5 separate regions of the Homo sapiens genome follow, and regions 1, 3, 4 and 5 are each linked to region 2. Evidence: fine-mapped expression QTL. A gene starts in region 2. Each other region holds a variant in brackets. All regions are shown on one strand. Distances are from middle to middle. Region 1 has its middle 65 kb from the start of FXN. Region 2 holds the start of TJP2 (tight junction protein 2). Region 3 overlaps TJP2 (tight junction protein 2). Region 4 overlaps TJP2 (tight junction protein 2). Region 5 overlaps TJP2 (tight junction protein 2).

The links. PIP is the estimated chance that this variant, and not a neighbour inherited with it, causes the effect. A credible set is the group of variants that fine-mapping cannot tell apart.
Region 1: its variant is the best candidate, but not a certain one, in a credible set for the expression of TJP2 in T cells (TOPMed, PIP 0.85).
Region 3: its variant is the best candidate, but not a certain one, in a credible set for the expression of TJP2 in sigmoid colon (GTEx, PIP 0.81).
Region 4: its variant is the best candidate, but not a certain one, in a credible set for the expression of TJP2 in coronary artery (GTEx, PIP 0.64).
Region 5: its variant is the best candidate, but not a certain one, in a credible set for the expression of TJP2 in monocytes (Schmiedel 2018, PIP 0.84).

Annotation. Positions count from the first base shown.
Region 1 is chr9:69,097,318-69,103,446 of GRCh38, reverse strand. No RefSeq gene overlaps it. Among named protein-coding and RNA genes, the nearest start is that of FXN, 65 kb to the right of the region's middle. The variant G/A (reference allele first, on the strand shown) is at 3,670.
Region 2 is chr9:69,171,346-69,177,474 of GRCh38, reverse strand. TJP2 (tight junction protein 2) reads right to left here and starts at 3,198. Exons shown (of 23, transcript NM_004817.4): 1 at 3,043-3,198. The coding sequence starts at 3,102. It overlaps LOC124902175 (a long non-coding RNA gene), which reads left to right and starts at 5,878. Exons shown (of 2, transcript XR_007061566.1): 1 at 5,878-6,129. RefSeq lists an enhancer at 2,100-2,289 and a silencer at 3,180-3,609.
Region 3 is chr9:69,242,398-69,248,246 of GRCh38, reverse strand. It overlaps TJP2 (tight junction protein 2), which reads right to left. Exons shown (of 23, transcript NM_004817.4): 18 at 1,457-1,557; 19 at 23-235. Among named protein-coding and RNA genes, the nearest start is that of BANCR, 62 kb to the left of the region's middle. RefSeq lists an enhancer at 5,466-5,849. The variant C/G (reference allele first, on the strand shown) is at 3,122.
Region 4 is chr9:69,234,939-69,241,067 of GRCh38, reverse strand. TJP2 (tight junction protein 2) reads right to left here. Exons shown (of 23, transcript NM_004817.4): 13 at 4,830-5,040; 14 at 3,932-4,119; 15 at 3,095-3,190; 16 at 2,279-2,358; 17 at 921-1,131. Among named protein-coding and RNA genes, the nearest start is that of TJP2, 64 kb to the right of the region's middle. The variant C/GATCCTCCTACCTCAAGCC (reference allele first, on the strand shown) is at 3,472.
Region 5 is chr9:69,212,075-69,218,203 of GRCh38, reverse strand. It overlaps TJP2 (tight junction protein 2), which reads right to left. Exons shown (of 23, transcript NM_004817.4): 2 at 5,603-5,656; 3 at 1,741-1,865. Among named protein-coding and RNA genes, the nearest start is that of TJP2, 41 kb to the right of the region's middle. The variant C/AC (reference allele first, on the strand shown) is at 2,814.

The DNA of each region.
Region 1 (6,129 bases), 74 kb after region 2:
AGTGGTGCGATCTCAGCTCACCACAACCTCTGCCTCCCAGGTTCAAGCAATTCTCCTGCCTCAGCCTCCTGAGTTGAGATTACATGCATGAGCCACCGCACCTGGCTGTCCCAGCTTTTTTAAAAAGCATTTTAATTTAAAATGCATTAAGACTTGCAAAACTGTCCAAATCATTTGATCCTGTAATTTCACCCTATCTTAAGACAATAGTCAAGGCTGGGCGTTGGTGGCTCATGCCTGTAATTCTAGCACTTTGGGAGGCCGAGGCAGGAGGACCACCTGAGGTCAGGAGTTCGAGACCAGCCTGGCCAACATGGTGAAACCCCTTCTCTACTAAAAATACAAAAATAGCTGGGCATGGTCGTGGGCACCTGTAATTCTAGCTACTCAGGAGGCTGAGGCAGGAGAATAGCTTGAACCCGGGAGGTGGAGGTTGCAGTGAGCCGAGATTGCGCCACTGCATTGCAGCCTGAGTGACAGCACAAGACTCTATCTTTAAAAAAAAAAAAAAAGACAATAGTCCAAATGCAGAGAAAACTATATGCACAAATCTTTTCATCAACACATTATTCATAAAAGCAAAAAAATGGCAACTGAAATATCCAACAATTAGGAAAAAATGAAGTAAATTAATGCAGTCACTAAAAAATTGTATATGCGTATATATATGTTAATCAGGAAGAGCATGTAACAACATTTATTCAATCAGCAAATATTTATTGAGCCAGCTTTACTATACCATGCTAAGTAAAATGGTGAAAAAGGTGGAGAAGATTTGGTCCTCATGGAACTTGTAGATAACACTTATGATATAATATTCAGTTGAAATTACAGAATACAAAATTCACCCAGTATGATTACCACGATGCAAAAATGAAATGCACAGGCAAAGGACAGGAGCAAAATAAGCCCTAGTGCAAACTGTATTTGTATTCATTCAGGGTAGTGACAGTACTAATGACTATTCTTCCTTTTACCATTTTAGAACTTATGGTAGATGTTTTTATTAAATATTAAAGTGATATAAAATGTGTAGAGACATCAAGAAATAATACTGTTACATTAAAAAACAGAATATAAGTAGAATAGCTGCATAGTATACCTGCAACTCTCCATTCAGATGAACAGGGATTGAAATCAATCGTGCAAGTATTATGAAAAGTAGTAGCATCTGAGCTAATTTATTTTCCTTTAACAAATGCATGTTAATGTTGTTAGTTCAAGGTCTTGTAATAATGTGTAATAAATATGTGTAATAAATAAATAAACTTTTATTTATTTGTTTATATGAGACAGGGTCTCTCTCTGTCACCCAGGCTAGACTGAAGTGGTGAAATCACCGCTCACCACAGCCTCGACCTCTGGGCTCAAGCAGTTCTCTCACTTTAGTCTTCCCAGTAGCTGGGACTACAGACGTGCGCCACCACGCCCAGCGAATTTTTGTATTTTTAGTAGAGATGGGGTTTCTCCATGTTGGCCAGGCTGGTCTTGAACTCCTGACCTCAAGTGATCCACCCACCTCAGCCTCCCAAAGTGCTGGGATTGATTACAGGCTGAGACACTGCACCTGTCCCCCACATGTACTTTTTTTTTTTTTTTTTTTTGAGACCTAGTTTGCTCTGTCACCCAGGCTGGAGTGCAGTGGCTCACTGCACCCTCCACCTCCCAGATTCAAGCGATTCTCCTGCCTCAGCCTCCCAAGTAGCTGGGACTACAGGCGTGTGCCACTAGGCCTGGATAATTTTTTGTTTTTTTGGAGAGACGGGGTTTCACTGTGTTAGCCAGGATGGTCTCGATCTCCTGACCTCGTGATCTGCCTGTCTTGGCCTCCCAAAGTGCTGTGATTACAGGCATAAGCCACAGCCCCCAGCCTTCCTATGCGTACTTTTAAAACAAATTTAGGCCGGCCGCAGTGGTTCACGCCTGTAATCCCAGCACTTTGGGAGGCCAAGGTGGGTGGATCACAAGGTCAGGAGATCGAGACCATCCAGACTAACACGGTGAAACCCCGTCTCTACTAAAAATATAAAAAAGTAGCTGGGCGTGGTGGCGGGCGCCTGTAGTCCCAGCTACTCGGGAAGCTGAGGCAGGAGAATGTTATGAACCTGGGAGGCGGAGCTTGCAGTGAGCCGAGATCGCACCACTGCACTCCAGCCTGGGCGACAGAATGAGACTCCATCTCAAAAACAACAACAACAACAACAACAACAACAACAACAACAACAACAACAAACCTTGTCCACTTTTCAAGGCCCATGTCTAAATTCACTCAGATTATTGAAGTCTCTCCTGACCTCACTCACTAGACATGGTCCCCAATGTATCCTCTGATTCTCTCTACCATACCCATGGTTTGCTTCTTTGCTAGCCTGTTGTGTATTATGCCTATGCAGTATACCTCTGGGGCTTGTCTTCCTCTTCTTCCCCAGGAGTCGTCTTTGTTATACACACTCATACATCCCCCCATACACATACTCCAGCTCCTAAAATCCTTGTAGATAGAGCTTATATCTGGTACCCTGACACATAGTATGTGTTCAATAAAAAATATGTGTTGAATTGTCTCCTCACCAATATATGATTTCTTTTCCTTTCTTTTTTCTTTCTTTCTTTCTTTTTTTTTTTTTTTTTTTTTTTGAGACAGGGTCTCATCACTCTATCACCCAGGCTGGAGTGCAGTGGTACAATCATGGCTCACTGCAGCCTCTACCTCCTGGGCCGAGGTGATCCTCCCACCTCAGCCTCCCAGGTAGCTAGGGCTGCAGGCAAGCTGACCACTCCCAGCTAATTTTTTATATTTTTTGTAGAGACAGGGTTTCACCGTGTTGCCCAGGCTGGTCTTAAACTTCTTGGCTCAAGTGATCTGCCTGCCCTGGCCTCCCAAAGTGCTGGGATTATAGGCATGAGACACTATGCCCGGCCAAGATATAATTATTTATATTAATAATAAGTCAAAAATAAAATAATGATTTTTCTTTTTTTTTAATTTTTTTTTGACAGAGTCTCACTCTGTTGCCCAGGCTAGAGTGCAATGGTGCACTCTTAGCTCACTGCAACCTCCATCTCCCAGGTTCAGGCAATTCTCTTGCCTCAGCCTCCAGAGTAGCTGGGACTACAAGTATGCACCACCACACCCAGCTAATTTTTGTATTTTTAGTAGAGACGGGATTTTACCATGTTGGCCAGGCTGGTCTTGAACTCCTGACCTCAGATGATCTGCCCGCCTTGGCCTCCCAAGGTGTTGGGATTACAGGCGTGAGCCACTGCGCCCAGCCTAAACATTAATTTATTGACTTGATATGACTAAATGTTCCCATCAAGAATGTTCTACAGATTCCTTCACTGATACATATCCACAGTAAGGAAAAAACAAACAGCCACTTACCCAGCCATCCTATGAACCACACTGTCTGGGTTGCTTCGTTGCTCACTTGCTGATTGGAATCCCAGGAGACAGAAACAGAGGTAGTCCAGCACATGGCCTGTTTGGAGAGCATGGTCCTCACTTTTCCTCAGGGATGGAACAGCCACAGGAGCCACGTTAACCTTCCAGGAGAAGGAGTATGTCTTGAGCATGGGTTTGGCATATTAAGGAGCCATGCCTGCAAATAAATTCCATCTCGAACTGAAGAGGCACTAACCGAGGAGCTGAGTTAATTATTCTTGCCT[G/A]TGGTTCCCAAGGCTACAACCTCCTTAGGATGCTGGGTAACAAGATCCTTTTCAACTCACTTGGGAGATATTAGTTGTCTGTTGCCTGCACCTGACCCCTGGATATGATTCATAGGGTTTCTGTCTGCTGCGGAGCCGGAGAAAGCAGCCAGCAAAGATATATTAGCTCCTATGTGGTGTTTTCACGCCCCACTGATGTGCCATAAAAACTCCCAGCTAAGGACCTCCTATTACGAATGCACCCGCTGTGTGTGAAGGAGGTGACTGATGTTAAACTCACATGCCAGAGAGAACTGGCCTATGAGGAAACAGGAAGAAAGTACTCTCTCTCACACACTTTTTTTTTTTTGAGACAGAGTCTCGCTGTGTTGCCCAGCTGGAGTGCAGAGGCACGATCTCGGCTCACTGCAACCTCTACCTCCCAAGTTCAAGTGATTCTCATGCCTCAGCCTACCGAGTAGCTGGGATGACAGGTGTCTGTCACCACGCCCAGCTAATTTTTGTATTTTCAGTAGAGACGGGGTTTTGCCATGTTGGCCAGGCTGGTCTCGAACTCCCAACCTCAAGTGCACTGCCCACCTCAGCCTCCCAATGTGCTGGGATTACAGGTGTGAGTTACTGCATGCAGCCAGAAGAAAGTATTCTCCATATCACTGCATTCACCTACTGGAGACTTCTTTCCTCAGGAAGCCAAGACCCAGAAGCAAAATGACTGGAAATCAAAGATGGACATTAAGAGCACATTCATCTTCTTCATCAGCTGCTGACAACTATTACTCAGGTGTGTAACATGTAGGCAAAACGTCTCTGCTATACCGGGGGCATGTCAGCAATTCGGTCCTGCCCAGATCTGGATTCTTTTTTTTTTTTTTTTTTTTTTTTTGAGACAGAGTCTCACTCTGTTGCCCAGGCTGGAGTGCAGCAGCACGATCTCAGCTCACTGCAGTTTCCTCCTGGGTTCAAGCGATTCTCCTGCCTCAGCCTCCCCAGTAGCTGGGATTACAAGTGCCTGCCACCATGCCCGGCTAATTTCAGATCCGGATTCTTGATTTCTAGAATCGCAGCTACTCATGAGACTGGTTGATGCAATTGCTTGCTTTTAGGAATTACGGAGAGGAGGGTTACATGGGTCCACAACCCCATAATATAATCTAAAATTTCACAGTTTTGTCTCTGAAACCAAAAGTTCGATGCCCAAACTAATTCGGCAGCAAAATCTGACCTGAAGTAATGTAAGTCTATTTATGATTCTCATTTGTTTTAGTAAAAATAGTCATACATTTCACTGGGATATATTCATGTGTTTGTTTATAGGATGTGACTCCAAGTCTTTCTTGGAGGTATCATGTCATAATATACAATATATGCAACGTATTTCGGAAAAAATTCTAAATTCCATAACACATAGCCCAAGAGTTTCAGATAAAGAGCTGTGGAACTGTAAACTTAAACCTCAGGGAGATCAACAGTTACCAGTGAACTATCCCACATGTCAAATTGCAGTTGTAGCACCTTAGAGTCTCTGCATTTCCTGCGCAAACATACATGACAATATATCTAATCCTAGTCCTGATTGGATACTGTATCAGCCTTGTAGAAAATTTTGCAAAATCATTATATACACTTCAACATTCTAACACTGTGAATTTGCACTCAACTGTGTTTACAGTGGCTGCCCTTCCTTAACAGGCCAAAAAACTCCATTTCCTCTTACTGCTTTTCATATCAATAAAAAAACAAGCATCCACCTAAGGCAAACATACTCAAATTTCTCTGTAAGTTTTCAGGGGAAGAAAATTAGGAGAGTCACTAAAAGGACAACAATATGGTCAATTTCTTTTGTATATCACCTAATTTCCTTTAGGTGGCTGTGGCAGGGTAGGGCTTGATTTTGTGACTCTAGTATGGTATCACCACAGCAAGTTAATCTTTCAAATATCCAGGTAAGTCAGAGATCATGATTTGGGTCTTTAACTGAACAGGAATTAGGTGCAAGATGTCGAATTCAGCCAGGCATGGTGGCTCACGCCTGTAATCCCAGCACTTTGGGAGGCTGAGGCGGGTGGATTGCCTGAGGTCAAGAGTTCGAGACCAGCCTGGCCAACATGGTGACACCCCGTCTCTACTGAAAATACAAAAAATTAGCTGGGCGTGGTGGCGGGCACCTGTAATCCCAGCTACTCGGGAGGCTGAGGCAGGAGAATCGCTTGAATCTGGGAGGCGGAGGTTGCAGTAAGCCGAGATCCTGCCATTGCACTCCAGCCTGGGTGACAGAGCAAGACTCTGTCTCAAAAAAAAAAAAAAAAAAAAAAAAAGATGTTGAATTCAGAACACCTGAAGGTTTTATGGATGGCAAAATTATTAGATTGGATGAATGGATTATGGCCTAGAGGTATTTCTGTTGACCGAATAGAGGAAATACAGGAATTTATCTTTTGCCCTCTGTACCCAATGTGCTCA
Region 2 (6,129 bases):
GCAAAAATTCCTATGAGGGAGAAACAGGCCCTAAATAGCTTTTTAAACCTTAACAAAGTTCACATAACCATTGATGTGTTTAACCCACTAAATGGGTGTTAAATCTAACCTCTGAGTCTGTGTTTCTGACCCTAACCCTTGGATTTAGGATCAAGACAAAAACTCAGTAAAACACCAGAGAAAACTGTTCTGCTTCCCTCCACTCCCATCTGGGGCAATCTCACCCTCAGACACTACCATATACCAAATCACCTTCTCTGGAAAATCAAGGCTGGTTGGTCCAACAACTGTTGGGCCCCTGATTACTGCTTAGAGTCAAATCAATGAGGCATGTTATTGGGAATCAGCTCTCAACCTAGATAAATTCATCTGTAGCCACAACTGCTTAATGGGATTCGTTCTAGAGATGAGGCAAGGAATTCCCTGGTGGCTCATATTGTTGGTAGAATATGTTGAAAGTTTCAGCAGTGATTGCGAACCCTTCTACCGCTTCACCCCGCCCCCACCACACCCAAACTTCATGCCTCTCCCCAACCAAGTCTGCATGACTTTTTAAATTACTATTTATATTACTACACATATTATTGTACACAGGACTAAAGTGGCCCCGCCTAGTTTCAATAACTTGTGTCTCGTAAAAAGATAACCTTCTTAAGGAGAGAAAACCTTGCTAAACTCAAAATCTCCCTTGCCTTCAGCAGTATGCAGAAAGTTCTCACACTTGTCCTGAAGAGAAATGGTTGGCTGTGAACTTTTGTCAGTGTACAAAGAACTAGATCAAAAGTTAAATGTAGGCAGAAGTCATTGCAAATGCAATTCCCCCGGGGGTGATGTAAAAATTCATTGGTCTTAAGCCTATGAATGCCTCAAAAATAGTTATGGGGTGGGATGTTTACTGGGAAACTGGTTCGCTTCTTTTGTAGGGAAAGTCAAGTCATTTAATACATGAGGGATTTCTGACTTCCCCCCACCCAAAGCTTCGTTATGGCCTTCAAGGCCTTTTAACAGAGTGTGAACAACAACTCTTTCAGTTTTTTCCTGGACACCTACCTGGCACCTCCTACTTGTATCTTTAGATCTCACCTCCCTTATCAACCCAGGACCCAACACTTAAGAGTTTTCAGCACCCGTTTTGTTCCTATTACTAGCTACCACCATTTACGTAGCATCCACCACATGCCTTGTACTCTCTGTCATTTCATTCAGACCTCACTCAGCCCGGTGAGGTGGGCGCATTACTGGCCCCATTTTCTATAGTGGCTTGCTCGGGTGAGGTAACTGTTCAAATGCCCTTTATTCCCAGCAAGAATCCCCTGAAGGGAATGCATATAGGACCAATCCCACTCTTTGCTAAATTTCTGTATTGCAGAGTGTGCATCGGCATCATACATTCCCTCCCTCAGTCTCAGGAATCCCGACACAGATTGCAGAGTAAAGTCTAACAGTTTCAGGTCCACTAGACCCCTAAATGCAGAAATTGAATCTTGTTCATCTTTGTATCCCCCACAGTGACTGGCAGGAGTAGGGGCTCATTCAGTATTATAATATCTGGATGGTACTGAAAAAGTTACAGCAGCATTTCAGAGGGGAAAGTTCCCCTTCATCAATCTGCATAAGTAGCTCTGAAAAGAAATAAAGTGGCCCCACTGCAGAAGTAGTTCTGAAAAAAACACAAGAAACACCTCAAAAGCCACCGGTGCTTTAGTAAAGCACCTCCGCTTCTGCCATCTCCCCACAATGAGGAAGCTCCAGTACCCTGTCCACATTTCTAAATGGCACTCATCGGATTCTTAATGAGTTGCAGGCTTTCCCAACGGGACTGTGTGACAGAGCCACGCTCTTGCTCATCTGCGTAATCCCCACACTGAAGTGGAGTTGTTCATGAAAACTTACTAAATAATCAAATTTCATCCTCTCAAGCAGGATATGCAGTGGTACTTTGCTACAAATACATTTACCACTACGAATTTCTCACTTCAAGCGATCTCCTGCCCAGGTGTGTGCTCTCAGAAAATTACATCTCTTTCTGAATTACGCTGGCAAAGGTGGACCTGTTTTCCCAAAAGGACCGTCAGCACACCCAGCACAGACCACCTGGGGAGCTGAAGAAAACGACCTCCCTCCCTCCTCCCCGCTGGGATTCCCCGGGCTGAGAGCGTGAGTGAGAAGCGCAAGGCAGTTTCTATCATGGGATGACTCTCCGCTGGGAACTTCAGGGAAACCACAACCATCATTACTCAGGCCAGACAGCTGCCAGAAAAGCAGCCTAGCCTAAGAACTGAAGCTGAAATAGAGGTGGGAGGCTGTATTCCATTACTAAGCGCGGGAGCACTCACTCCCAAGTTTGTCCACATTTCAAGAATGTTAAAACCCTGTGGTAGAAATCCCTGATTATTTATAACTTAAACTACCGTGTAAAAGCAGAAACTTGACAAATGAAGACATAAAAAGAACTGGTGACAGGTAGGCTAGTACTAGAATACAAAGCATTCATCACACTCCTCTTTTGTGGGTCCTTCCAAACCTCCATCCCCATTCCCTACTGGAAAAAAAAAAAAAAAAAAACAACTTTTACTTCTATTACAGACGCAGCTGATTGAAAGGGAAAAGGGATTCTGCTCTGTGATGAGTTTTCAGTTTCTCTCACGTACACAAGCCTGTAACTTTGCATCAATACCGAGTGTGGTTTGAAATAGAGAAGGAAAACACAAAGACATGCAAGCGACACAACAGACACGAGATGCCTCCAAGCCAGCAGAAATCCAGGACACCGGGTTCAAGACAGTGTCCCCTACTCGCGCCTTAATCTCCAGCCCAAGTGACTTCAGAGTAAAGGTTCCAGGAGCCCCGGAGGCCACGAGTCATCAGCCCGGACGGTGAAACCTACCCCTCCCCTGCGTCCCACGTCCGGATGGGAGAATCCCAGCTTCCTACGGCGCATCGGGGAACAACTTCAGAGCAGCACGCGAGCAGAGCCCCCAGCGCTCCCACGCTCACGCTCACGACCCTCCTCCCAACCGCGCGGCACAAGGAGGCACTTACGCGGAGCCAACCTGACAGCTCCCGCCGGGGTGGAAACCCGCGGTCTCCTCGCACCGGCATTTCGGACACAGGTCCCGCGTAGGCGCGCAGCTCCGGACCCCGCTTCTGCTTCTGCTCCTGCTCCTACTCCTCCTGGGCACCACCGGACAGTGCTCTGACCCGCAGCCCAACCGCCGGGGTGCCGACCCGCGGGGACCCACCCCTTTGTCCCTCCTCCCGCGGCGGCGGCGGCGTCAGCCCGCCCCCGACCCGAGCGTGGCGCCTCCGCGCTGGCCGCCCGGCCCGGGAAACTGTCAAATTGGCCGCTACCACCCACGCGCCTGCCGGGGAAGGGCTCGCCGGCGCCGCGCCTTCGAGGCTCCTGCGGCGAACCGCGTCACGCGCGACTCCTGGCCGGGGGCGGGAGGCGGCGGCGGCGGCAGGAGAAGCCCAAGGCCCGAGCGGCCCGCAGCCCCCACGCCTGCACCCCTCCACCCCCGCCAGCCCGATGGTTCGCTCCGCGGCGTGCACTGGAGCAAGCAGGTCCCGCTCCGAGCGCGCGCGCTCTGGGAAGTGCTGCAAGTTTGGAGACCTGGAGTGAGCTCCGGGCGCTGCTGGCCCGACTGTCCGCGGTGTTTCCCCGGTGAGGTCGCGGGGGCATCCTGTAGGAAGACTTTTTGGCGAGGTTCGCAGGGCCTCACACAGGCAGCTTCAGTTCTCCTACGAAGAGTCGAACTGGGAAAACCTCAAAGTTTTAGGTCCTGTCTAGAGGCCTGCCCGGCTAACCAACACATACACGGCCTTGTACCCCACATTTCTCAGCCCAACAACTGCCTACCCGAATTCCGAGGGTTATAAGATGTTCGTATTAAATATTAAAACAGGACTTTTCAGGACAATATATTCCAGGTTATCTCTTTGGCACATTTCCAACAACTCCAATAAAGAGATTGAAACTCCTCTCCCATCATCAGCTTATAAAAGGTTGCCAGTAGGTCACAAGTGCTTATCTGACAGGATTCATCTAATGCAATTCAGTGTGCTTATTCCTTTCGAAGTCCTCCATGTGCAAAGAATTGTGCAGTGACGTTAAGTGTCTTTATTTTAAGAGCATATAAATTAATTTGGAGAATCCAAACAGGTACCGATTAAAAATATAACCTTGGGTTTGAAATCTTAAAAAACCATCTTGTAAGAGAATAGTTTTGCCTGCCCTGCTCTTCCCTTAATTGGAAAGCAAAACTCGTCCTAGGCTCACAAGTAGAAGGTAAAAGGTGTGGTCTGTCCCAGAGGAGATGCAGATGCTGGGCTCTCTCCCTGAAAAGTTGCTTCACTTCCTGCCTGATCAAAACAAGTCTAGAAGTTTCGTGGAAAAACAAGTCCAGTAGATGCCTCTCCAGAAGTGTTATGCTTCTGGACTCCTTTGGAGTAACTAAGTCCACGCCTCTGGATAAAAAGCACTGTGAGTAACGTTTCCCACTTTGCCTCGAGTCTCCGGACTTAGACATTTTGGTTGTATTCCTGATGTAAGGCATTGCTCTCCTGATCTAAGCACCTATTTATAAAATGTTTCCCAAATCTGGCCAGGCACGGTGGCTCATGCCTGTAATCCCAGCACTTTGGGAAGGCAAGGCAGGAGAATCACTTGAGCCCACGAGTTTGAGACCAGTCTGGGCAACATAGTGAGACCCCATCTCTATTTTTTAAAAATTGTTTTAATCAAAAAAAAGGAAAAAAAAATAAAATATTTCCCAAATTAGGTGGTGCTGACTAATAAAAATGATAGCACTTGAAAGGTGGCCACACCTTAATGATGTGGGCTTAGAGCCACTAACATTTAAAAAATAATCCAGAATGTGGCAGTTACATCTACTGACTGATTTCCTTTTTTCTCTCTAGAGCGGCACTGTTCAATAAGATGACCACTTGCCACCAGTAAGTGTTTACATTTACATGTAAATTAACTAAAATTAGAGGAAATGACAAATTCAGTTCTTCAGTCACACTTGTCTCATTTCAAGGGCTCAGAAGCCACATGTGGCTAATAGCTACCCTATTGGACAGTGCAAATATAGAATATTTCCATCAATGCAGAAAGTTCTGTTGGACTGCACTACTCGAAATGATGAAATATTTATAGACAAACTCCATTCTTCTGGCACAACACCTGACAGATGATAAGCATTCAGTAAATGGTTGTTAGAAACACGGTTCAGTTGATATATTAGCTTTTTTGCTGGTGGCAGTGTAAATCAATACAACTCTTTGGAGAAACAATTTATTAGTCATCTTCTTCACGTGTGGGTTTGCACATTTTGACCCCACTCCTAGAATGTGTTTATCCAAAGAACTTCTACTCCGCAGGGCGCGGTGGCTCATGCCTGTAATCCCAGCACTTTGGGAGGTCGAGGCGGACAGATCGCGAGGTCAAGAAATCAAGACCATCCTGGCCAACATGGTGAGACCCCGTCTCTACTAAAAATAACAAAAATTAGCTGGGCGTGGTGGCGCACGCCTGTAGTCCCAGCTGTTCAGGAGGCTGAGGCAGGAGAATCGCTTGAACCCAAGAGGCGGAGGTTACAGTGAGACGAGATTGCACCACTGCACTCCAGCCTGGTGACAGAGCGAGATTCCGTCTCAAAAAAAAAAAAAAAAAAAAAAAAATTCTTCTACTCAACAGGTACTTACTGAACACCTCTGTCAACCCCTTGATAAAATACTCAGGATCCTGCCTTAGGAAACTCAGTCTATTGCAGTAGACAATCAACAAGTAATGATAAACTGTGTAAGCACTGAGATTCCTGGCAGGCTCAGAGTGGTCTAGCAGGAGAGACTTAGGGAAGGCTTTCCAGAGATGGGGTTGCTTATACATTCTAAAGGAGAGGTCGGAATGAGTTTTTAAGACACAAAGAAGGAAAAAAGCCTTCCAGGTAAGGGGAATAAATAACACAGAGAGAAGTAAGGAAGGAAGAGACAGCAGGCTTACTCTTGAGGTGCCAGAAGGTGAAGTTGCCCAGGCAAGTATAAAGATGGATTTGACAGTTGGTGGGGGACAGGGGTTGGTGGGGGAGGAGAATGTTAGTAAGAATGACAAGACCGGCCAAAAAT
Region 3 (5,849 bases), 71 kb before region 2:
CCCGTGGCCTGCCTCGCCTCACCTCCTCGTGCTGCACCGGCTCCGAGGAGCGGGTGATGGACGACACCAGCGGCTCCTCGGCTGGCTCATCCAGCTCATTGTCAGTGTAGGCGCCTCCTTCACCGTCCGTGTCTTCAAAGTCACTGATGAGGCGGCTGTCGCAACTCAGATAGTCCGCGCCCATGGCGGTTAAGTAGGACATGCGGTCTTCGGGGTCATCATCCATCCCTTCCATCTAGAGGAATTTGTGTTGGACGGTCAGTGGGGTCTGATGTGGCTCCTGGGAGTGGGGACTCAAGAAAATTCCCAAGGACACAGCCAAGCGACTGAAACCTTGATGTGCTCGCCAGGGAAGGCATCTTTTATTTTTCTCCCTGAGATCACTTGGCTTTGGTACAATGTTGATATTATGGTCGTTTTTGTGCAGGAACTCAAATTAGGGGCCCTGCAGCCTATCTGTGCTACCATCCATCCTCCATACCGCGGCTAAGCCACACTTTCTCAGTCTGTCTTGCTTTTCTTCTGAATCCAGCTCCTCTGCAGCCTGTTCTCCTGGTACCACTCTCCTAGTAATATCAACACATTGCACGCTGCCTTGTGCTACACTCACATCCATGCCTCTACAAGATTCTCAGACCCTCAAAGGCAGAAGCTATGTCCTGTTCAACCTGTCCTCCCCAGGGAAGCTTGCATCCCCCTTCCAAACTGGAAGCACTCCATAGATGCCAGATACTTTGACTACACATCTAGTTCTCAAAGAGCAAAACTTAGTCAATTCTGCAACAAAATAGTCACTGTCAAGTCTCACAAAACTACCTCAGTTCAGCTGGTGAACAGGATACTAACACCAAAAGCTTCTAAAATAAAAGCGGCCACAGGTAATAGAATCTCCCTCTCTCCTCCCTGCAGCACAGCTGTGTGTGAGCTATCTCCCCGAGGGAGAAGCGATCCAATTCTAGAGGCCTAGACAAATTCCCTAACGTTCTCATATCACCCATTCAAACTCCCAGAACGATGGCACATTCTCAACCAACCTTATTTTCTAAGTAATTCTAACTCCATTAGCTTTTCTTTTTATTAATGTTTAGCCGTATTCTCCAAGTTGCTCAACCTCACCTCTCATCTGCACTCTAAGTTTCCCACGTCCTTAGTAAGCTGTGGAGCTCAGCATGAGATCTTGTAAGCTCTGATTAGTGTACTTGGAATATAACACTAGTTACTACATTAAAAGTGAAAGGGAAGTGAATGTAGGGCTGCACATGTCACATTCTGCTCTTCTTTTAAAAGTCCCTTCATTTTTATTACTTGGTCAGAGAATTTACGAAATTTCAAACTTGATTAGCACACATGTGAGCATCACTTCAAATGGGCATGGCTTGACTACATTCACTGCCCTCTTGAGAAAAGTTTCAGAACAGGGACTCTCACCTCATAGCAGCATATCTATGCCACATACCTTTCCTTCAGAGACCCAAACCGCTTCTCCTTGCTGATGCTGAATAGTGTCCTTTAAGCTGCCAAACCAGCTATCATTGGCTGAATTTAGGTTGATTGTAGCTATAGAAATATAAACAAAAAGGTCTGCATTAATTTCCAGAGGCATGTTTATTAAGGATGCTATTTGACATAATTTACACTCATTTCTGTGATATTTAAGACTATGGCAGACGCAAGAAGATGTTTGCACATCTTTGAATATTAAAACCCTTTTAATGAATGCAATTAAAACTACTAATCATGTAGCTGTTTGAGTTCACATTATAGGTGGATGTGATAAAGCTAAAAATAGATTTTTAGAATGTTTATTTTCAGAAAGGCTAACTTTTAAAAATGTTTTTAAGAACATGTGTTTTCGGCCAGGTGTGGTGGCTCATGCCTGTAATCTCAGCACTCTGGGAGGCTGAGGTGTATACACTAATTAGTATACACTAATATACTGTATTGGCTACCTCCAATAAAATACTAAAAGTAACACTTAAACATAAAGTTGTCCCTTGGTATCTGTAGAGGATTGGTTCCGGGACACCCCCCACTTGGATACCAAAATCCACAGATGCCGAGTATCTGATACAAAATGACACAGTATTTGCATATGACTTATGTACATCCTCTTATATACTTTAAATCATCTCTGGATTACTTATAATTCCTAATACAATGTAAATGCTACGCAAATCGTTGTTATACTATATTGTTTAGGGAATAATGACAAGAAAAAAACCCTGCACGTTTAGATGTAACCATCCATTTTACCCCTCAAATATTTCCTATACACGGCTAGTTGAATTCATGAATGTGGAAACCACAGACATGGAGAGCTGACTGTATATCACTTTGATAGACTTACACATTTTAGAATATACATATAGATTAAACAAACCCAACCAGTGTGTATTCAAAGAATATACATTTTCTACTCAGAACAAAGTATATCTTACATAATAGCACTTACTATGCATCAACCAGTTACTTTCCAAGTACCTTACCTGGATTAGCTCATTTCACGACTACACAAACTTTGCAAGGTAGGTGTTGCTATGATGCCCATCTTATAGATGAGAAACCAAGGTAAAGTAGTGAAATTAACTAGCCCAAGGCCACACACCAAGCAAGTGTGAAGCTTGGATGCAAGCTCAGAAAACTGCTTTCAGAGCCTATGGTCTCAGCCACCACACTACATGGCCCATCTAAAAACAGAAATTTAGAGCACAGATATAAAATACCAACAAAGTACAACATATGTCATTTCTTCAGCAATATGTATTATGGACCTAATGGAGATAAATTAGACAAGCAAGTTAGTCCAAAATAACAAATTGTACCCCTAAAATTATCAGACTGCAGGTAAATTAGGATTTCTTTTAAACTACATTGCCATGGCCTCTTATTGTACTATCACTTCTAAAGCCAAAAAGAACCATTAAGCAAATTTTGTAAGCAATGATGCTTCAGGTTTTCCTCCAAGTAACATAGCTTTCTTCTGTTTAAGAAGTTCTAACAGTGACCTTAGAAAATCCTGAATGAGCTTACAATTTCCTTGGTTATTAATTATTTACAGCACTGAAATAAACTGATCCATTAGACAACCCGAAGAAAATTAACTTTGATTCCACGGACTTCT[C/G]TATTCCTATTATGGTACTCTGCAAAGATTACTGTGCTCATCTCATAGCTAAAATATGATACTTAAAAATAGAAGTGAGATTTTGTACCCCAGAGACAAAATGAGTGATTTACACTAAATATATACAAAATGTTAAGCAGTCTTTTAAAGCTTTATGTTGCAGCTGTCTGAGATAAGTATGGTCTGCATTCATCATAAAGAAAACCTAAAGTTAAAACGGCATTTTGTGAGATGCAGGAAATATGTTCTTGCCCCTTGATAAAATAAAGAAAATCACAAAAGCTCTTACTGAATTCACATTAACAGTCAAGTTTATGAATAAAAATTGAGAGCTTCACAGTAGCTAACTTCCTAAGCTGCATATAAAAGTAACATCCAACTCATGCACTTGACCTCTTTTTAACAGGCAGGTGCACAGACATGAAGCTGCCTTCCCTTGACTCTGCTGAATTAAGTACCTTTAGCTTATTATTGGATTCTCTCATTCCGCTTCTCAGATTCTTTGCCTTAGAGCAATAGTAGTTAATTATCTGTTGCTCCTAACCTCTGGGTTATGCCTATATCCCCTTGGATAGACTTACTCTATCTTTTGAGCTCAAGAAAGTGAAATACTGAAAGGATGCTGACTCAGCCACTGCCTTAGTTGGGAATACTGAGGTTCTGAGGGCACGTGTGCCCAGCCCTGACATGTATGGTCAGTGCTACCTCCCCCTCCCCAGCCAAGGAGGTTTGGAAGCACCAAGAGCGACAGCAAAAGGTAACATCTAAGACTAGAGGGTTTAGGGAAAGGGAGAAATGGGGAATGACTGCTAATGGGTATGGGGTATCTTTTGGGGATGATAAAAATGTTCTAAGATTGATTGGTTGTGATGACAGCTGTACAACTCTGAATATACTAAAGCCCACTGAATTGCATACTTTTTTTTTTTTTTTTTTTTTTTCCTGAGACAGGGTCTCATTGTCGCCCAGGCTGGAGTGCTGTAGTGCAATCTCGGCTCACTGCAACCTCCAGCTCCCGGGCTTAAGTGATCCTCCCACCTCAGCCTCCCAAGTAGCTGGGACTACCGGCACCCACCACCACACCCAGCTAATTTTTTTATTTTTAATAGAGACAGGGTTTCATCATGTTGCCCAGGCTGGTCTCAAACTCCTGAGCTCAAGTGACCTGCCCACCTTGGCCTCCCAATGTGCTGGGATTTACAGGCGTGAGCCACCATGCCCAGCTGAACTATATACTTTCAATGGGTGGATTATATGGTATCTAAGTCAAAACTCAATAAAGCTTTTCACGTGGCTCGGTTAACAGTGGCACGCTAGACCCCCTCTAAATGGGCATGCAACAGCAAAGGTATCCAGCTAGGGGGCCCAGCATCTTCCTTCTCTTTTCTGTGGTCAACTAGCTAGTCTATATAATCCTTTGAGAAATCAGGAATTAAAATTCTATAATTAGCATAAAAGGGTAGCCCCACTTGGGTCTCTAAATCCATAAGTCAACTTAAATGATCTTCGAACCATGCACTGAGTACTTTGAAGATTCCAAGAAAACATGTAATTCAAAGTTTGTTTTTTAAAAATAAAAATTTGTGATATGCAAATGTATTTTATAGAAAATTTTTAAAAATTGGTAGTAGGGGAGGCAAACCTAACACTTAAACTTATTATGACAAGTCAACTTGCCTTTGGGCAAATCTCAGAATAAAGCTTCTCTTGTTTAACTGAGAAGTACTGTAAGACTTGTAAGGAGAACTATTTTCATATTGTCATAATTAAATACTCGTGAGGAAGAGGAGCTTTCTTATTACTTTGCAAAAAGGAAAACAAAAGGATATTGAGCCTAAAGAGACTAATGCAACATAAAGCTTGACTTCAAATTACTGTGTTCATCAAAGCACTCTATTATTCTCAACTACTAACTCACAAAAATGCCATACACTTAAAATCATTTTAAAAGCCTACAAAATAGGCCAGGCACGGTGGCTCATGCCTGTAATCCCAGCATTTTAGGAGGCCAACACGGGCAGATTGCTTGAGCCCAGGGGTTTGAGACCAGCTTGGGCAACATGGGTAAACCCTGTTGCCAGAAAAAATACAAAAATTACCCAGGCATGGTGGTGTGTGCCTGTAGTCCCAGCTACTGGGGAGGCTGAGGAGGGAAGGTGCCTTGAGCCCAGGAAGCAGAGGTTGCAGTGAACCGAGATCGTGCCACTGCACTCTAGCTTGGGCGACAGAGGGAGACTATGTCTCAAAAACAAACAAAAACTATAAAATACTAATTCTGCCTGAAGATTCTACTGCTCAAATGTAAAGACTAGTGTTTCTGGACATGGCACACAGCCTCAAGTCAAAACCTGGTCAAGCTAAGAGGGACGAGGGTGAGATGGGGAATAAAAGCAATTATTAGTGCAGTCATCCACACAGCTGTAGGGAGTCAAACTTTGAAGTCTGGAAGAGTACTGTAAAAGACCACTTGCTAGAAAATTGGAGCTTGCTGGTCAAAGTTGCTGCACACCCTGCACCATCTATCCTGAAGACTGTACAATTCTACATAAGAGATTGGCAATTTCTGGTGAGATAAGATCACTTCAATGTTTTAGATGAAACTCAATGCTTACAGTGTGTGCTTCCATTCCAATCTCTGACTTGAGTTATTCTAAAACTTTCAACTTCCTGATGAGTTTAGGCAAGAAATGGCTTGGTGTGCCAGGGGCAGTTCTAATGTAAGTTACAA
Region 4 (6,129 bases), 64 kb before region 2:
TTCAACAACTAACAACTACCAAGTCTTGGCCAGTCTTGTCCTGTCTATAATCCCATCTACTCCCCTCACTGCAGACTATTTAGGCAAATTCTCAACATTATATTAGGTCAACCATAAATATTTTATTTAGTATGCATTCCTCAAAGAACTTTGTTTTTAAAAAAATCACAATATTATTATCACACCTAACAAAGAGAAATAATAAATCTTTAAATCATCCAATATTCAGAGTGTCCAAGTTTCTAGATTTTTTTTTTTTTCTTTGAAGAGACAGGGTCTCACTCAGTCACCAGGCAGGAGTGCAGCAGTGCCATCACAGCTCACTGCAGCTTTGAATTCCTGGCTCAAGCGATCCTCCAACCTCAGCCATAGGCATGCACCACCATGCTAGGCCTTTTAGTAGAGACAGGATCTCACCATGTTGCTCAGGCTGGTCTCCAACCCCTGGGCTCAAGTGATCCTCCTGCCTTGGCCTCCCAAAGTGGGAGGATTACAAGTGTTATCCACCATGCTGGACAGGAATATTTTTAAATAATGAAACCAAGTTCCTTTCGCTTTGTAAGTTAATGCATGTATTGATGGTGAGTAGAGAACAATGACACAATCTCTAGAGAGACATAGGTGTTTGGCCTGGCTCAATCACTAGCCTTATAGTCTCACAGGAAAATATGAACTTCATCAAAATAGCTAATTATTACCACATCATGGATCTTTATGGTCATTTTCAAATAGACAAAATTACAAAGTTCAATATATAAATGCCATTGGCCTAATATCCCATTTTATAGGATTAACTATTTTTCAAGGAGTCATGAACACAATTTCAAATTCTCCATTCAGATTAATTAATTATTTCTTCTACTCTTCAATTCTTTATTTCTCATTTTTTAGCAAAGGGACTACATTTACATTTCACTTACCTGTAAAAAGGTGTGCACACGTTTTTTTAAGCTTGTTGGCTTGATCAAATAACTTTCGAGAACTTTTGTTGGACGTTGGATTTAACCTTTGTCTCATGGTTTTGACACCTTGTCTGGAGTCTGGGTTGAAAAAAATCACAATTGGGAACCACTGGGTGTAATTCAACAGGTCCACAGCTTTCGGAGTCACATCCAGTAGTGCATGCTTATCCTGTTTACAAAAGGGGAAAAGTTAGAGAAATGGATATATAAAGTAATATAGCATCAAATACTTTGTTTTAATAAGTAAAGGCTGTATGAGATATATCTTGTTTGTTTGTTTGTTTACTTATTTGGGATAGATTCTTGCTCTGTTGCCCAGGCTGGAGTGCAGTGGCACAAACTTGGCTCACTGCGACCTCCGCCTCCCGGGTTCAAGCAATTATCCTGTCTCAGCCTCCTGAGTAGCTGGGATTACAGGTGCCCGCCACCACCATGGCCAGCTAATTTTTGTATTTTTAGTAGAGACAGGGTTTCACCATGTTGGCCAGGCTGGTCCCAAACTCCTGACTTCAGGTGATCCGCCCGCCTCTGCCTCCCAAAGTGCTGGGATTACAGGCATGAGCCACCTATCTTGTAAATTTAAATCAAGAAGCAGAACACATTTCCTTCTACCTAATGCCCACTTCAATATTACCAATGTGTTAGAACTTCTGATAAAATGAATTAACACATTATTTGGTATAATGCTGGGAACTCTGGAAAAAAAAACAGTATGTTACTGCCAGAGAACAGTAACAGTGACTGGTTTCCACACAGTGAAATGGTTTGCATTTACATTATATATATATTTTTTTGAGATGGAGTTTCACTCTTGTCGCCCAGGCTGGAGTGCAATGGTGCAATCTCCGCTCACTGCCAACAGTGACTGGTTTCCACACAGTGAAACGGTTTGCATTTACATTATATATATATTTTTTTGAGATGGAGTTTCACTCGTCGCCCAGGCTGGAGTGCAATGGTGCAATCTCCGCTCACTGCAAACTCCGCCTCCTGAGTTCAAGCGATTCTCCTGCCTCAGCCTCCTGAGTGGCTGGGACTACAGGTACCTGCCACTGTGCCCGGCTAATTTTTTATATTTTTAGTAGAGACAGGGTTTCACCATGTTGGCCAGGCTGGTCTCGAACTCCTGACCTCAGGTGATCCACCCGCCTCAGCCTCTCAAAGTGTTGGGATTACAGGTGTAAGCCACTGTGCCCGGCCAATTTTTTATTATTAACATTTAATGATTAAAAGTACAGATACTATCCTAAAAGTGACTGCAGCAAACCATAATCTAATTCTTTCTGAAAACACGGTCTGTGGATGAATTTTCTCACCTGTTCAATAATTTGCCTCACGGTATTTAACCGGACCACTCCAGTGGATTTCTCAGATCCTGCATCTTTTGGTTCCGTTTCTGCAAAAGCAAAAACAGGAAGCTAAATAATTGTTTAGAAAACAGTGACAACCAAATACTCCCACCTAGCATCAAGCAATGATGGCACACCTGACATTAAGTGTCTCCTAACAAGATTCAGTGGGAAGGACCCACATAACCTGCTTAGTGGAAATCTAATCATGAAGAAACGGTTAGGCCAGTCCAACAGGAAGCATTCTAGGAGACAACTAGCTTGGATTCTTCAAAATATCAGTGTAACAAAGTTATTTAGAAAAAAGAGGGGACTGGAAAGACATAAAAATCACAAAAAGACATAAAAATCAAATGTCATGAATGGTCCTTGGTTGTATTCTGAATTTAAAAAAAAGCTATGAAGCACATAACTAGGACAATTAAGAAAACGTGGAAAATGGACTATATACAAAATCACACCACATCAATGTTACCTTTCTTGGCTGTGATAATGGTATTGCAGTTATGTGGGAGAAAGTCCTTGTTCTTAGGAGATTCACACAAGTATTCAGGGATAAAGTGTTATAAATGATTCTGCAGAAATTTTTCAAAGAGTATGTGTATGTGTGTGTGTATGTGTGTCTATGGTGCAGGCAGTGGGTGAGAGAAAATGCGTGACAAAATGTCAGCAACTGGTGATTCCAGGTGAAGGGTACGTGGGTGTTCATGATTCTTCCAACTCCTCTGTTAGAAATTTTTCAAAATAAAAATTTGGGGGAAAAAAAAACACTGACAGACTTACTAGCAGTTTGAAACCAGTCAGGTAACTCATTAGCCAATTTTTCCATTGCTATATCAGCTATGGGGCCGAATAAGACCACAGGTCTCTTGAAACCAGCTGAAATGACAAGAAAGGCCATTAAAGCATACACACTTGCCTAGCTGTTATGATAAGCAGTAAAAGTATTGTATGGGCTTTTGATAACATAACTAAACGAAAGAAACTGTGGTTTCTCCCCAATTCAGCTTGGCTCTGTTCTGAAGAATATGCCTTCACTATCCTCACCATTTAAAACAATTTTTTTCTTTTCATTCAACCACATGCTAACCTAGATTTTTTTTTAAGAGACAAGATCTCACTATGTTGCCCAGACTAAACTCAAACTCCTAGGCTCAAGC[C/GATCCTCCTACCTCAAGCC]TCCTGAGTAGCTGGGACTACACTGCCTAGCTCCTCACCATTTTTAAACACAAACTTTCCCATTGATAATATATGGAAACTTTTTTTATTTTTTGCAGAGATGAGGTCTTACTATATTGCCCAGGCTAGTCTTGAACTTCTGAGCTCAAGTGATCCTCCCACCTTGGCCTCCCAAAGTGCTACGATTATAGGCATAAGGTACAGTGCCCAGCCAATATACCGAAACTCTTGAACAGTGGTATTAAAACATTTTTTAAGTTGCAGAAATAAGCCTCAATTTAGGAACTGAAACAGCTTTTTATAAATCATGCTCCTTGTTAGAATTTGATTTCAACTCTATAAACTGCCTTTGGCATAACTGACATACATAAGTTAGAACTTGACCATACAGTCTGAAAATAAAGGTGAACAGGCTCAGAGCCCAGTCAGTTCATTTCCAGGCCCCATGTGACTTCCTCACCTTCTCGCAGCAAAACCCTCTCATAAGCTGGGAACTTGGTGCTGACAGACACAACAGCTGTGAGGTCTTCCCGACTTTTCCTCAGGTTCTTCTTCACCCCAGACCTCTGGCCACGCATTCTCCAGAAATCTGCCCGGTCCCCAGCGTTGTCTCTCTGGGCATTTTGAACACTGGCCATTTGTTCAGCTCTGAGAAGAAACCACGGGAAGTAAATCTCTAAAGCCAGAAAACGCAGCTAACATGCATTTCATTAATCAAATCCAGTCAATTTTACTTCTGAGCTCAGAGAAGATTCCGCTTGACAATGAAGAAGTTTCAGAGGGTGGGAAATGTGGGGACCTTCACTTCCAAATGGGAGCAGAAAAAGGCTGGGTCTCTGTGAAATCTCCCAGAAGTGGCTCAGCAATAAACATGTGAAATTTGGCCCATTCTGATATGCAGGTACACAGTACACACACCTGGAACTCCTGCTCAAATACAGGCCTCTTTTCTAGGTTCCTGCACTGTCAGCCAAACACCAAGTGTTCACTGGGGTGCATAAACCTCTCCAAGGATGGAGACTGGGCACCGGACAAGGGTACCTTGTCTCTAAGAGGTGTGCTGGTGTGCTACGGCCATTCAGTATATCTCTTGTATACGGTACAAGGCAGTGGATGCTCCTTAGGAAGTTGTTCAAACAGCCACATTCAGCAACCAACCACATGATGCTAAATTTACTCACAATAAACTGGCTGGTGGCTATTTACAGTTCAGGCCACTCTCCATAAACAAGAAATAGATGGTGACAAGTAATGAACTCATCATGTGGGGTTTCCTTTTACGGGGGAAGGGGGGCGGTCTCTAGTTTTCTGCAGGGGGAAGGATTAAAAGGGGTATGTGAGAATGCGATCTCTGTTACCTGCTCTTGTTGGGGATTAAGCCTTTCTCCAACTCGTTCCCAATCCTCACAGCCAGCCAGTTGCCCAGCTTGCCGTCATACAGTGTGTCTACCACTCGGAAGACCTCCCCTCTGGTGAAGGCCAGGCTCTGTGGAGTTTCCTTCTCACATTCAAAGTGGCTTCTTATAAAAAACGAATCCCCTCTGCCACAAGCCAGGATGTCTCTATACACTGAAAGACAAAAGCATCGTTTGTTGCATTCAGCTTAGTACAAGTTACAGTACTAGACACTCAACACAGCTTCTCCTATCTCTGATCTCCCCTTTACCTTCCTTCCATTCAGTGCACAAGTCCTATGGGAGTCACAGCTCCAACAGGAACAAGGACAAATAACCAGCTTCACGGCTTGCTGCAATGGTTAATTTTATTTCAACTTGACTGGGCCATGAAATAACCAGGTATTTGGTCAGACTTTATTCTATGCCTTTCTCTGAGGGTGTTTTTGAATGACAGTCACGTATAAATGGGTAGACTGAGCAAAGAAGATCGCCCTCCCCAATGCGAGTGGGCCTCATCCAATCAGTTGAGGGCCTGAAGAGAATGACAATCAGACCCCTTCTCAATTAAGAGGAAACTAGGCTGGGCGTGGTGGCTCATGCCTATAATCCCAGCACTTTGGGAGGCCAAGGTGGGTGGATCACAAGGTCAGGAGATCGAGACCATCCTGGCTAACACAGTGAAACCCCGTCTCTACTAAAAATACAAAAAATTAGCCGGGCGTGGTGGTGGGCGCCTGTAGTCCCAGCTACTCGGGAGGCTGAGGCAGGAGAATGGGGTGAACCTGGGAGGCAGAGCTTGCAGTGAGCCAAGATTGCTCCACTGCACTCCAGCCTCAGCGACAAAGCCAGACTCCGTCTCAAAAAAATAATAATAAATAAATAAATAAATAAATAAATAAATAAAAAATTAGGAGGAAACTACTCTTCCTGCCTGATGGCCTTCAAAAGGCGACATCAGCTCTTTTCCCTGACTTGGTACTGGAACTACACCATTGGCTCTCCTGGTTCTCAGGCCTTCAGACTGAGACTAGAACTAAATCACTGGCTCTCCTGAGTCTCTATCTTGCCCATTTTCACTGCAGATCTTGGCACTTGCCAGTCTCCATAATTATGTGAGCCAATTCTTTATAATAAATCTCTTTCTTTCCTATTGATTCCAATATCTCCTATCATTCTGTTTCTCTGGAGAACATTAACACAGTTGCCAATCAAGCTCTGAAGCAGACAAGGAGGACACTCTCAACACCCACTTAACAGATGG
Region 5 (6,129 bases), 41 kb before region 2:
AATTATTTATTTAGGAACAAATAGAAGCAGCAAATAGACCTGAAAGGCTTTCTAAAGGGCTCAGTGTCTAGTGGCGCCCAAGGCCCAGTCAACTTGGCCTGAGATCTTCCAAAGAAAGGAACTGGGGGCCATACAGCTCAATTCTGAGTGTCTAAATGGAAATCATCTGGGAAGAGAGAGGCCTGATCTCCCCAAACCACAGCATCACACCAGGAGGTACTTGATGACGGTGAGGTCTGGACACAAAAGGAATTTCTCTATCAGTCCCCTATTGCCTGAGGTGCACGGTGGGCTTCAGAAAAGTCTAAAAACACTCCTTCCAAGTAGGTGTATATCCATTTGTGCTTTTGTGCAGGAAAAGGGCTTGCCTTGGATTCTTAAGAAATTTTGAGATCACAGAATCCTATTGTTCCAGTTCATCCCAAATATTACTTTAAAATTTTGCATTTCTCCATATGAAAGACTACTAACTTTGATAAAACTATAGAGACTTTCTTAACTATAATTTTATTTTTTAAGAGGCATGGTTTCCCTCTCTCACCCAGGAAGGACTGCAGTAGTGTGACTGATGATAGCTCACCGCAACCTCAACTTCCCGAGCTCAAAGGATTCTCTCACCTTAGCCTCCCAAGTAGCTGGGACCCGAGTAGGTACATGCCATCCCAACAGGGTCTCACTAGGTTGCCCAGGCTGATCTTGAACACCTGGCCTCAAGCGTTCCTGCCACCTCAGCCTCCCAAAGTGCAGGATTATAGGCGTGAGCCACTGTGCTTAGTTCACAGAGGCTTTAAACACCAACAAAACCTAAACTTTTGAGCTATTTATCCAATGCAGCCATACAGTTAACTTTAGACTTCGTCCTGAGAAGTTATCCTGTGGGAATCAGGCATGTATCATGTAAAATGGTGTTACCAGCTGGGTATGGTGGCTCATGCCTGTAATCCCAGCACTTTGGGAGGCCGAGGTGGGCAGATCACTTCAGGTCAGGAGTTTGACACCAGCCTAGCCAACATGGCGAAAACCCGTCTCTACTAAAAATACAAAAATTAGCTGGGAGTGGTGGCAGGCACCTGTAATCCCAGCTACTCAGGTGGCTGAGGCAGAAGAGAATTGCTTGAACTCGGAAGGTGATGGTTGCAGTGAGCTGAGATCGCACCACTGCAATCCAGACTGGGTGACAGAGCAAGACTCTGTCTGAAAAAAAAAAAAAAAAAGAAAAGAAAAAATTTATTAAAAATTAAAATAAAATGGTGTTACTTCTTCAGGTCAGAAAGCTGGCAGTTGGAAAACTTGTGGTTTTCCTATAGTAAATTGTCCCAACTTCCACATCACTCTTACAAATAAGATAATCAATAAACCAAAGTCTCCTCATTAAATTCTTAAAGAATATAAATTAAAACAAACATAAACAGTGTTGGTTAAGCATCGGGGTTGAGAAGCATGCCAATTTAAAACTCCATGTTCAGAAATGATTCCTAAACCTAGGAGGGATGTTTGGAACTATCTTCTTACGGAAACAACTGCCCTCCTCGCTCCAAAGCTGGGGTGTTCCCAAGGTTTGGGCATTATTCAAACATGGTGTGTTATGGCTTCCATTCCAGCTTGAAGACTTTTCAAATATTATATAAAAGTTTGTTATTTTTTTCTTTTTTTTAAATAAAGTGGACACCAACCAAAATACCCCGTCTAGGGCCAACCAGTAGGGCTGGTAGGGGCTGCGGAGCGAGGGAGGACACTCACTGGAGCAGCCCATCAGCAGGCCCACCCGGGAGCACATCAGAAATGACAATTGACGTTTCTCCATTTTCAAAGTGGGGGTTGTCTCTGCCTCCGGACACTGCAATTCCAAATCCTCTTTTGGAATCCTGTACATCAGAGAGGAGAAATATTAAAAATCCTTCAATAAGTGGCTTTCAGGATTTATTACAAGCACTCAATAAAATAAAGGTCAAATCAATAACCAGAGACTGTTCAGGAACAGATGGGCTTACAGAAACAAATGAGAAACAAAACAAAGCATAGTCATTGTCAGCTGACAGGTTTATAAAGGGAAATTCCTTATCTGAAAGAAACAGCCTGTAGAGGCTGGAAAAGATTGATAGTGCAGACTGGAGTTATCACTAGAAGCTGGCCGGGATAGGAAACAATGTCTTCAGTCCAAATAGGGACGTACTGTTTGAAGCACCAGTTGTACCTCTTTGCATCATGCTGGCCCGAGCTGGAACAACTTCAGTAAAAACTGAACCTGTACTAAAACTGTATTTTTTAATTTTCAGATTTCCTTATTGTATTTGTTTTTTAAGAGACAGAGTTTTGATCTGTTGCTAGGCTGGAGTGCAGCGGTGTGATCACTACTCACTACAGCCTCAAATTTCTGGGCTCAAATGAGCCTCCTGTCTCAACCTCCCAAAGCACTGGGATTACAACAGACAGCCATTGTGCCTGGCCTGTACTGTAAATATTTTTAATTCTTCTGTATATTGTGATGTTTTGACATATTAAAAAAAAAAAAACCTTCTGCCTAGGCTCATGGCTCATGTCTATAATCCCAGCACTTTGGGAGGCCAATGCAGGCAGATTGCTTGAGTCCAGCAGCTCAAGACCAGCCTGGACAACATGGCAAAACCCTGTCTTTACTAGAAATAGAAAAAAATAGCTGGTCATGGTGGTGCACATCCATAGTCCCAGATACTTGGGAGGCTGAGGTGGGAGAATCACCTGAGCCTGTGAGGTCAAGGCTTCAACAAGCCAAGGCAGCTTTTGCACTTTAAATTGGGCAAATGGAGAAGTCTCTAAAAAACAAAAAAAAAAAA[C/AC]CACAACTTTCTAGCTGGGCGGGAAAAGACTGCTCTTCCCAGTGCTAGCCAATCCTTTTTAATTTTATTTTTATTTTAGATTCAGGAGTACATGTGCAGGTTTGTTATATATGTGTATTGTCTGATGCTGAGGTTTGGGCTTCTAATGATCCTGTCACTCAAGTACCGAACACAGTACCCAAGAAGTAGTTTTTCAAACTTTGCTCCTCTCCCTCCCTCCGTACTTTTGGAATTCCCAGTGTTTACTGTTCCTGTCCTTGTGTCTGTGTGTACCCAATGTTTAGCTCCCACTTCTAAGTGAGAACATGCAGTATTTGGTTTTCTGTTTCAGCATTAATTTGCTTAGGATAATGGCCTCCAGGTACATTCGTGTTGCTGCAAAGGACATATTTCGTTCTTTCTTATGTCTGCCTAAAATTATATTTTTAAAGTATACCTTTAACTTCAAAGTAGATGTGTTGGTAGTTTCATTTCAACATACAGTGAAAAAGAAGTAAATGGATTTGTTTGTTTTTTTTTTTTTTGAGATGGAGTCTTGCTCTGTTGCCAGGCTGGAGTGCAGTGGTGCTGGCTCACTGCAACCCCTGCCTCCTAGGTTCAAGTGATTCTCCTGCCTCAGCCTCCTGAGTAGCTGGGACTACAGGCATGTGCCACCACACCCAGCTAATTTTTGTATTTTTAGTAGAGAGACAGGGAGGGTTTCACCATGTTGGCCAGGATGGTCTCGATCTCCTGACCTTGTGATCCACCTGTCTCTGCCTCCCAAAGTGTGGGGATTACAGGCGTGAGCTACTGCGCCCGGCCCGTAACTGGATTTTAAAGATAAAATTTGAACGTAAAATATGTGTTGAGATCTCATGAAAAGCAAAGCACTAAACCCTTTTCTTCATGCATGGAAGATCGGAAATAAGATTTATTACATCCATGATCAGTCTAGCAATGCACAATGGTGAGCATAGATAATACATAATCCTAATTCATTTGTGTTTTAAAAAGCTAAGTCTGGGCCAGGTGCGGTGGCTCACACCTGTAATCCCAGCACTTCGGGAGGCCAAGGCGGGTGAATTGCTTGAGTCCAGGAGTTCGAGATCAGCCTGGCCAACATGGCAAAACCCCATCTCTACTAAAAATACAAAAATTAGCCAGGTGTGGTGGCACACCCCTGTAATCCCAGCTACTTAGGAGGCTGGAGCAGGAAAATCACTTGAACCTAGGAGGTGAAGGTTGCAGTGAGCTGAGATCATGCAATTACACTCCAGCCTGGGCAACTGAATGAGACTCCATTTCAAAAATATATATATGTATCTAAGCCCAGTTTCATCCAGATAATATGAGTATATTTGACTGTATATTCTTAAATCTGGGTTCGATTATATAAAAATTTACTCCGAGACTAAAAGAAAATCTTCCTTTCCAAGGAAAGTTTCCCACGTGAGGCCCACTATGCTGACTGATTATACACAATTACAAACTCAAAACAGGTTGGGGGTGTTGTCTATTAATCACATGGCTTTGAATTTGGCAGCACCACCAGCCGGCACCTGGTTTTAGACAGAGGCAGCTCCATCCTCTATGCCAAGCCTAAAAAAATCTCTGACCTCTGCCAATTTTGGGTCCACAACTCAAGGAATGCATGAAATGCTCAGGGAAAGGGCAGAGGAGAGTCAGAAAGACGAGGAAAGTTGAAAAATAAGACCTAAGCAGACAAAACCCCTCAAATGAGGAAATTGTGATTACTGATCTGGAAGTCTGGGTACCTGGGCACTGGCCCAGAGACATTTTTTTCTACCTGGATTAATTCAACAAACATTAAATTCGGGAATGTCTTTAATTTTCATAGAAGACAAAGCTTGAAGCTCACAGTTCTGAGGGTCAAAGGAAAACTCTTCCTATGAGGAACTTATGGTCCCTCTAGGAGATGTCAGACCTTGGAGGAATTCAGAGCCAGAAGAAGAAACCCTGCAGAAAAACCAGGAAAATCACAGTGATGATGACCGGAAGGCAGCTTGACGGAATAAAAATGCGGAACCGTCTGGGCACGGTGGCTCACGCCTGCAACCCAGCACTTTGCGGGCCAAGGTGGGTGGATCACCTGAGGTCAGGAGTTCGAGACCAGCCTGACCAACATGGAGAAACCCCGTCTCTATTAAAAATACAAAATTAGCCGGGCGTGGTGATAGGCGCCTGTAATCCCAGCTACTTGGGAGGCTGAGGCAGGAAAATTGCTTGAACCCGGGAGGCGGAGGTTGCGCTGAGCCGAAATTGCACCACCGTACTCCAGCCTGGGCGACAAGAGTGCAATTCCGTCTCAAAAAAAAAAAAAAAAAAAAAAAAATGCAGAACCACGAGTGCAGTTCTCCAGCTCAGCCTCACACAAATGACTTACAGTCTCTTGGATGCTACACTTTTTAAGAGTTATAAGGTATGTATAATATGTCATAATTAAAATTACAGAAGTTGTAAAAAGCTCCCTCCACATCCTTAAACAGTACAGGTCATTTTCATTCTTCCCTTTCTTTTCTCTCTTTCATAACCTGTTCTAGCTGGAGATAAGAGTATACACTAAATAACCTCTAAAATGTTCCATACTAAACAGTCCTTAATCAAAAAATACAATAGCATGCAAATCTTTGTTAACATAGCAATTATTGCCAGTTAGTATCTATAATACATTATGTACCTCAAGGGAAAAAAAAAGCCAAAACTGTGTGTAGGTGAAAATAAATAAGATCCATGATCCGTAAAATCAAGAACATGACTGTAGAATATATGAAATGTGCAGAACTCACCTTTTGTAGGGTCACAGTGTACTGTTCCCATATCAGCTCTTCCATGCCTGGGGCCTGTTTTAAAAGAACAAAACCAATCTGATGAAAACCACAACCTTTTCAATGCTAGAAATAAAATTATCATTCAAAATGCCTCGACATAAAGTCCAGCTCACACTTTCTATACCAAAAAAGAGTTAATATCTGTTCATTATGCTACCTATTTTCAAACACACTCTCCTTCAATGAAATGAAACTAGAAACAATACTTGAAAGGTAAGTGAAATACATAGTGAGAGACAGACCCTAAAAAGAATGGAATGTTAAGTGCTGAGTCCTTTTATTATCACTATTCCAAAACATTATCATCATAAAACCCCTTTAAAAATATCTAGTTTCAAATAGATTCTTTTTTTAAAATCATTCTCCCCCTCTTCCTGTCAAAGGTGACCTCGTAGGCAAGTTTTCTGCATGTTTATGTCTAAAAATATCCTTAGCCTTATCATAGGGTATGCCCAATTGGGTGATCTGCGGGATCTTTCGGCTTT